Linked DNA regions of Homo sapiens. The protein of the gene in region 1 interacts with the protein of each later gene in a pairwise test. Each region holds a gene or a part of one and is shown on either strand. Other genes may lie near its edges.

Region 1 (3,825 bases):
GGGGGAGTGAAGCTGGGCTGGGCCTTTTGTCCGCAGTGCCTCAGTGTCCCTCAGTGCCCACCAAAAAAGAAGCACAGAAAGAGGGCTGAGGCCCCCACACCAGCAGGGATGGCTCCAGGGAGGAGGTGGTCCTGGCCCTGGCAGTGAGCGCTGCACCTGGCAGAGTTCTGGGAGAGCGCTGTGGGTGGGGCGGCCAGGCAGGGTGCACTTGGTGGTCCAGTCCGCAGAACACAGGAAGGAGCGTGGGCCTGGGCCTTTGGGGAGCCCTGGGCGTCCTGCAGAGGACCTTGCCCTGAGGGCCCTGGGACGGCAGTCATGAGGAGCGAGGTGACTTGTGGACAGAGACGCCAAGGCCAAGGGTGTGGAGTCCGGGAAGGCTGAGTGGGAGTGGGGAAGCCAGGGCATTTGGAGGTGACGCTGTGCACTCTCCCTTACTTTGTTCTAATAGCTTTATTGGGATATAATTCACGCACCACACAGTCCACCCATTTAAAGTAGATAATTCGATGGTTTTTAGTATAGTCACAGAGCTGCACGACCATCACCAGTCTCCAATTCCAGAAAATTTTCATCATCTCTAAGAAAATTTTCATCATCTCTAAGCAACAACAAGAAAATAGATCAACTGGACGTCATCACGATTTAAAACATTTGTGCACCTAAGGACACTATCAAGAGAGTGAAGACAGGCCACAGAATGGGACAGAATGTGTAGAAATCGCATAGCTGATAAGGATCTAGGATCCAGAATACAGAAAAAATGTTACAGCCCAACAATAAAAAGACAAACAACCCAACTCAGCAATGAGCAAAGGGCTAGGACAGACATTTCCCCAAGGAAGACAGGCAAATGGCCAGTCAGCACAGCAAAAGAGGCTCAGCGTTGTTAGTCATCAAGGAAACACAGATCAAAACCACCAGGAGATATTGCCTCACACCCACAAGGATGGCCCCCATCAGCATTGTCACACCAGAAAATAAGTGCTGTTGAAGATGGGGAGAAGGTGGAACCCTCCTATGTCGCTGGTGGGAATGTGAAACGGTGCTGCCCCTGTGGAAAACAGTTTCGTGGACACCACGACCCAGCCATTCCTCTCCTAGATGTCCACGCAAAAGAATTGAAAACATGGGTTCAAACAAAAACTTGTACGTGAATATTCACAGCAGCGTGACTCGTGACAGCCAAAAGGTGGAAACGACTCACGTGCTGGTAGACGTGCTGGTAGACAGATGAAGGGATGGATGGACCAACACAATGCTCTTTAGCATACAATGGATATTACTCAGCCTTAGAAAGAATGGAAGTTCGGGCTGGTGGCAGTGGCTCATTCCTGTAATCCTAGCACTTAGGGAGGCCGGGTGGGTGGATCGCTTGAGCCCAAGACTTCAAGACCACCCTGGGCAACATGAGGAGACCCCAGCTCTACAAAAAATTTGAAAATTCGCTGGGCGTGGTGGCATGCACATGTAATCCCAGCTACGGGGGACACTGACGTAGGAGGATGGCTTGAGGGAAAAAACAAAACAAAACAAAAAAAGAAAGGAAGGTCTAATATCTGAGGGAAACGGAAAAACTTTACACTAAGGAAAGAAGCCAGACACAAAAGGCCACACAGTGTATGAGTCCCTTGATAGGAAATGTCCAGACAGGCAAATCCATACAGACAGGAAGCACATGAGGCTGGGGAGGGGCGTGGGGAGGGCTGCTCATGGGCCTGGGGTTTCTTTCCGGGTTGATGGAGGTGTTTTGGAACTGGGTAGTGGTGACGGTTGCATGATATTGTGAACGTGCTTAATGCCATTCAACTGTACACTGTAAAGTGGTTGAAATGGTGAATTTTACGTTCGGCCTCTTTTACCACGACAATAGAATCAGAAACTCCGTGCGTACCCCGGCACCTCCCTGCTGCTCACTCACTTTTTCAAGAGGATCTCTGAGGCCCCCTTGCTGAAGAGGCGGAAGCCACCGTCGGGCATGCGGATGACTGTGCTCATGGACTTGCGGACCGAGTTGAAGGTGTACACTTTGTAAAGCTTGTCTTCCGGGATCTGCTCGCGCACGGGCTGGAAGTCCCGCTTCAGGTCCAAGACGAAGCCCAGCAGGGCGCACTCCGTCTTATTGCCCACCTGGCGTGGGAGGGCGCCTTCCTTCTCAGGAGGCTGCAAGATGACGAGGGCTAGCAGGCACTGGGGGCCTGAGACCACCCTCCATGCTGCCCCTGGAGCCCCAGCTCTGCCCCCTCGTGGTCACCACATTGTTAGGGTGTGGGCGGCAGGGAGCAGAGGAAGGTCGGCCTTAGCTACAGGCAGTTTCCCAGCCAGAGCCACCTGTGAGGCCAGGGATGGGCAAAAGTTCTCAAGGGGGGGCCTAATGAGCACCTTGCAACAGCTCACCTGGCACCCTGGCCAGGACCCTCCCCTGCTCCTGCCCCCGGCCCTGCCCGCCCGCTCCTGCCCCAGCTCACTAGTATTTTGGTGGTATAGGCACTGTTGATGGAGATGGCATGGACCAGGAGGTCGAGGATCTTAGGGGTCAGGGCGCTGGGGGCCGGAATCTCTTTGTAGTGGGTGTCTCCTAGGTAGGACTGGACCACGGTCATACGGTTGGTGGTGAGCGTGCCCGTCTTGTCGGAGCAGATGGCTGTGGCGTTGCCCATGGTCTCGCAGGCATCCAGGTGGCGCACCAGGTTGTTGTCTTTCATCATTTTCTGCAAAGGGCGAGGGTGTGGGCATTTGGCCCAGGTGCTTGTTGGGGTGGAGGAGTGAGAGATGTCAACACAAACATCGCGTGACTCTGTTCTGCTCAGCTAGCTCCACGTGTGGCACTAAGCCCACTGGGCACCTGGTCAGCCCTGAGCCAATAGCGAGGCTGTAAGGCATCAGCAACCTCATCCAATGGTGGGGGCGGGATGCGCACCCGGGACCTCCCCTGCCCGAGCCCCCTCTCAGTTACCCACCAGCCCTGCAGCTCTCCCACCCCACCACCCCACCACCCCACCACCCCACACCTGGCTCCCCCCACCTCCTCCCACTGCCTCCCAGTGTCCCGGGCCCTCTGCTGATTCTCCGCTTCCCCGCTGCCTCCCAGCCCCTCCGTCCTACTGCCCACATTGTGCAGATGCTGAACCCCTGGGTATCTCACCGCCTGCCTGCTTTCTGGCCCATCTCATGCCGAGGGACCTGAGCTGACAGATCAGCAAAGCTGCCCCCTGGGTCCCTGCTCGGCACCTCCTCTCCTCCCTTGAGCTATCCCAAACGTCCCCAGTTTATACTGCCACCAAGGCGCCCAATGACTTCTTACCCCAGTTTCCGAGTCTGTAAACAGTATCAACTGTAAGTTTTATGATTACCTTGACAGAGTAAGCTAAGGAGATGGTGACAGCAAGAGGCAGGCCCTCTGGGACAGCCACGACCAGCACAGTGACACCAATGATGAAGAACTTCACGAAGTATTGTACATAGACCGGCGTGCACTCTGCCAGCCATGTCCGGCCTTCCACGACAAACGTCTCAATCACAAAGTAGAGGACCAGGATGATGACGGTGATGGCAGACATCACCAGCCCTGCCACAGAGCGGGGAGGAGACGAAAGGGGTTGCCACGGGTGAGGGAAGGAGGGGGACAGGAAGAGGGAAGAAGAGGTATGGACACGGTCTCGGAGGCATTTGTGAAGGCCTTGTAGATTTGCCTTGCGTTTCAGGATAAACAGCCCAGGTTTGGCTCAGCAGGTGAGCTGGGGCCTGTTTGCAAGGGGGCTCTGTGTGGCCTCTTCTGGAGTGCTGCTGGGGTTGGGGAGTGGACTTTGTGGTCTGATGGCAGGAGAA
Region 2 (3,825 bases), about 39 Mb from region 1:
AGCTTTTATGGTGCTTACAAAGGAAATACACAGACAGAATATTGTTGCATCAGCTTCTAGTAATGAAAGACTGAGTAATTTGCAATGACTCTTGTGCTAAAGGCAAATAAACACATGGATAAAACACTAAAAGCCCTAAGAAGCTAATGAAATAGAAATTGCTATTGGCTAAGATCCAGAAAAAGACAAAAACCCAAGAAAAATGATTATGACTTCTAGTTCACTTTTGCCAATGATGCATTATAAACCTGAAGATATGACTGACAGGTGGAGACGATCATTTCAGACTCGCAAGCAATGGAGGACTAGAGTAGGAATACAGAGTCTGGCAAGGGCCAACCAACCTGAATTTAATTCTGGGATCACAAAAAAACCAGACACTAGGAATAAGGATCGACCAGGATTAAATCACCATAGACATGGAATTCAGCCCTGGTTCAAGTCATCTATGTAAATGAGAGAAATCTTGGGCCTTAAAATTGGATTAAGATGATTTCGTATTATTCAGGTTTCCAATTTTGGGGCATAAACAAACAAAAAAAACCCCATAATCCTAGATTTCAACTTATTTCTTTCAATAATTTTCAAATGCTGTCACTGAAATACAATGATATGCAGATATATGAGGAGACAATACAACATGAATCAGGTATGGGACAATAAGAGATAACAGAAATAAACTTACAAACACTTCAGATAATTGAATTATCAGACATACACTTTAAATAATCATTTGGAATGTGCACATGGAAATTACATGCTGATCTTAAACACTTCAGCAAGAAACTGCAAACTATAACAAATGACATTAAGATTTGAGAAACACCTAGAAAATATGGAACTTAAGCATAATATGAAAAACTAAGGGCCAGGCAGTGTCTTACACCTGTAATTCCAGCACTTTGGGAGGCCGATGCAGGCGGATCACTTGTGGCCAGGAGTTCAAGACTAGCCTGGACAACATGATGAAACCCCATCTCTACTAAAAATACAAAAATTAGCCAGGTATGGTAGCACACGCCTGTAATCCCAGCTACTTGGGAGGCTGTGGTGGGAGGATCACTTGACCCTCAGAGGTCAAGTCTGCAGTGAGCTGAGATCATGCCACTGCGCTCCAGCCTGGGCAACAGAGTGAGACTCTGTCACACACACAAAAAAAATTAATTAATTAAAAAATGAAAACCTAAGAACTCTGTGGCAGATTAGAGATGGCGAATTTCCAAATTTACAGAAGATTATTATAAAATATTAAAAATTAGCTGGGTATGGTGGCATGTGCCTGTAGCCCTAGCTACTCAGAAGGTTGAGGCAGGAGCATCACTTGAACTCAAGTGTCTTGAGGTTGCAGTGAGCTATGATCGTGCTATGACACTTCAGCCTTGATGAGAAAGCAACACTTTGTCTCTACAAATAAAAGATAAAATGAAATAATAAGATAAATCCAAAAGGAGTCAATAAAAGATAGAAAAATATAAAACGTATACTGAATGGCAGAATTAAAACCAAATATATCCCTAATTATATGAATTACTAAGGATTCTAAGACTGTCATATAGGCTTTCAAAAAAATAAGACAACTATATGTTACAAGAGGCATATATAAAGCATAAAGAAAGTAAAAGGATAAAAACAAACAAAAAAATTCCTCCATCTAAACACTATCCAAGAGAAAGACTGTATAGCTATATTAATATTTGTCAAAATAGACTTTTCGGCAAAAAACAAATACTCCAGTGAAAGAAGATTACTTACTATGAAAGATTTAATACATCTGGAAGACATAAGGTAATAAATTTGTATGTACATAATTATATGTAGATACATATGTAATATACATAGTATATACATTATAAAGTAAAAGAGGACAGAACTTCAGGGACAGATAGACAAGTCTACAATCATCGCATAAGATCTTAGCACATCCTTCTCAGCGATTGTATGAAAACAATTAACAAACCTGAACTCACTGACAAGTGAAGAATACATATTCCCATCATTGCACAAGAAATATTTATCAAAACTGACCATAAAGTAATTCCTCAACACATTCCAAAGGGTTGGAATAAATTGTTTATTCTTTGACTGAAATTCAAAAGAAATAGAAATGACTTCAAAATAGTAGAAAAACCTTCGTATATTTGGAAATTAAGAAATTGTTTCCCAATAAACTTTGACCTAATGGATTTCAAATCCATTGATGATTCTTCCCTAAGCTATCTATTACTAAGGTGATACAATGATAATTTTTCTCATTTTATTATTCTTCCTGCCTTTATTTGTTGGTATTATACTGTAAGGAAGTGTTTTCCCTCCAAGTCTTTGTTATTTATTAGTTCATGTTGGTGGAGACTCCTGGATTCTTTTGTATTCAGTGTAATATATATGATTCATTATTGCCCTTAATTATTTTGATGCTCAAATTGTCTCATATTTTTCTAATAAGAACTCCTTTTCATATATCCCATCAGCTTTTGAGCATTTGCCAGACTCACCTTTTACTTTCCATGCCCCAGTTCCGAAATTAGCCATTTCTTACAAGAAACCCTTTTAGTGGGCAATGGTTTTATAAAGCAGGATGCAGAAGCTCAGTATGCTCATTGCTAATAGGATATCATTGCTCCTATATATCAATACCTTTAATCCCAATTCACGAACACAGGACTCTTGCTACTTTCCAATTCTTTATTTTTCCTCATTTTTCTCACAGTGAGTAACTTTGTCCCCAAACCATTGATATATTTATTATTTATATTTTCTATATCCTACCATACAAGAAATTAATTTCAGAATTTCTATACCCATACCACTACCAATAAATGAAATGCAATGTTTAAAATTTCATTGCAATTTTATCTTTAGAATGTTTTCCACCAATGGCATATAGTCAAAGCATTGTCTTCAAAATGCTAGGATTAGTTTGAATTTTTTTTCTCTGTGGTTCTGATACCAATTGTTCACATTTAGGGATTTTGTTTTGTTTTTGCATGTATTCCCCAACCTTGTTGACTTTATTTTTTAATATGTAAAACTTTAATATGATGCTCCAACAGTCAAAACTAGGCAAATAAAATACTCAGAGAAGAGTCAGTTCCTCTTCTATTCCGTGGTTAACCCATTCATTAGTTTCTAGGGCATACTTCTTGAATTTATTTTTGCAAAAAAAAAAAAGATTATACACAAATACACGTATTGTTATTTTTCCATTCTTAAATTAAAAGTTAAAATGCTACATACAAATTAATACTTTGTTTTGCTTTGTTCTTTTACTTGGAAATATGTCCTGGAAATCACTCTATCAATTTGTAAGATGATAGATATGCACCCAACTTTATCATGTAAATGGCCTAAATACTCCAATTAAAAGCTAAATTCATTCTATTATTTTTTACACTCACTAATAATAGATTGTGTTGATATACTTTATTTAACCAATCTTCTGTGTATAATCAGGTAAGTTGTTTCCAACATTTGGAAGTTGCCAATAATTCTACTAAGAATAATTGTGTGTGTGTGTGTGTGTGTGTGTGTGTCCTTTGTGTGTGCGTGCGTGCATGTGTGTCTGTCTTGTGTGTTTGTGTGCGCGCGCGCGTGCATGTGTGTGTTTCATATTATTGGAAGTTTAACTTTTAAATAAATTCTTGCTCAAATGTATTCAGAATTTATCTTCTAAATAAATTCTTAGAGGAGGAGTTGATTGATCAAAGGGTACATGTAGTTAGGAGTTGAACCATTTTGCATTCCCACCAGCAATGCAAGAAAGCCTCTGTTTCCCCAAAGCCTTGCTAATGAAGTTTATTTTCAAACTTTTTAGATTTTGCAAATCCC

The links.
Region 2: the proteins of ATP2B3 (region 1) and HTR2C interact in a two-hybrid assay, tested with the Homo sapiens proteins (one large-scale study listed by BioGRID and IntAct).

What each region holds. Positions count from the first base shown.
Region 1 is NC_000023.11:153,548,380-153,552,204, reverse strand, and holds part of ATP2B3 (plasma membrane calcium-transporting ATPase 3), read right to left. Parts: intron 3,566-3,825; coding exon 3,351-3,565; intron 2,709-3,350; coding exon 2,466-2,708; intron 2,161-2,465; coding exon 1,919-2,160; intron 1-1,918. UniProt on the Homo sapiens protein: ATP-driven Ca(2+) ion pump involved in the maintenance of basal intracellular Ca(2+) levels at the presynaptic terminals. Uses ATP as an energy source to transport cytosolic Ca(2+) ions across the plasma membrane to the extracellular compartment.
Region 2 is NC_000023.11:114,849,263-114,853,087, forward strand, and holds part of HTR2C (5-hydroxytryptamine receptor 2C isoform a precursor), read left to right. Parts: intron 1-3,825. UniProt on the Homo sapiens protein: G-protein coupled receptor for 5-hydroxytryptamine (serotonin).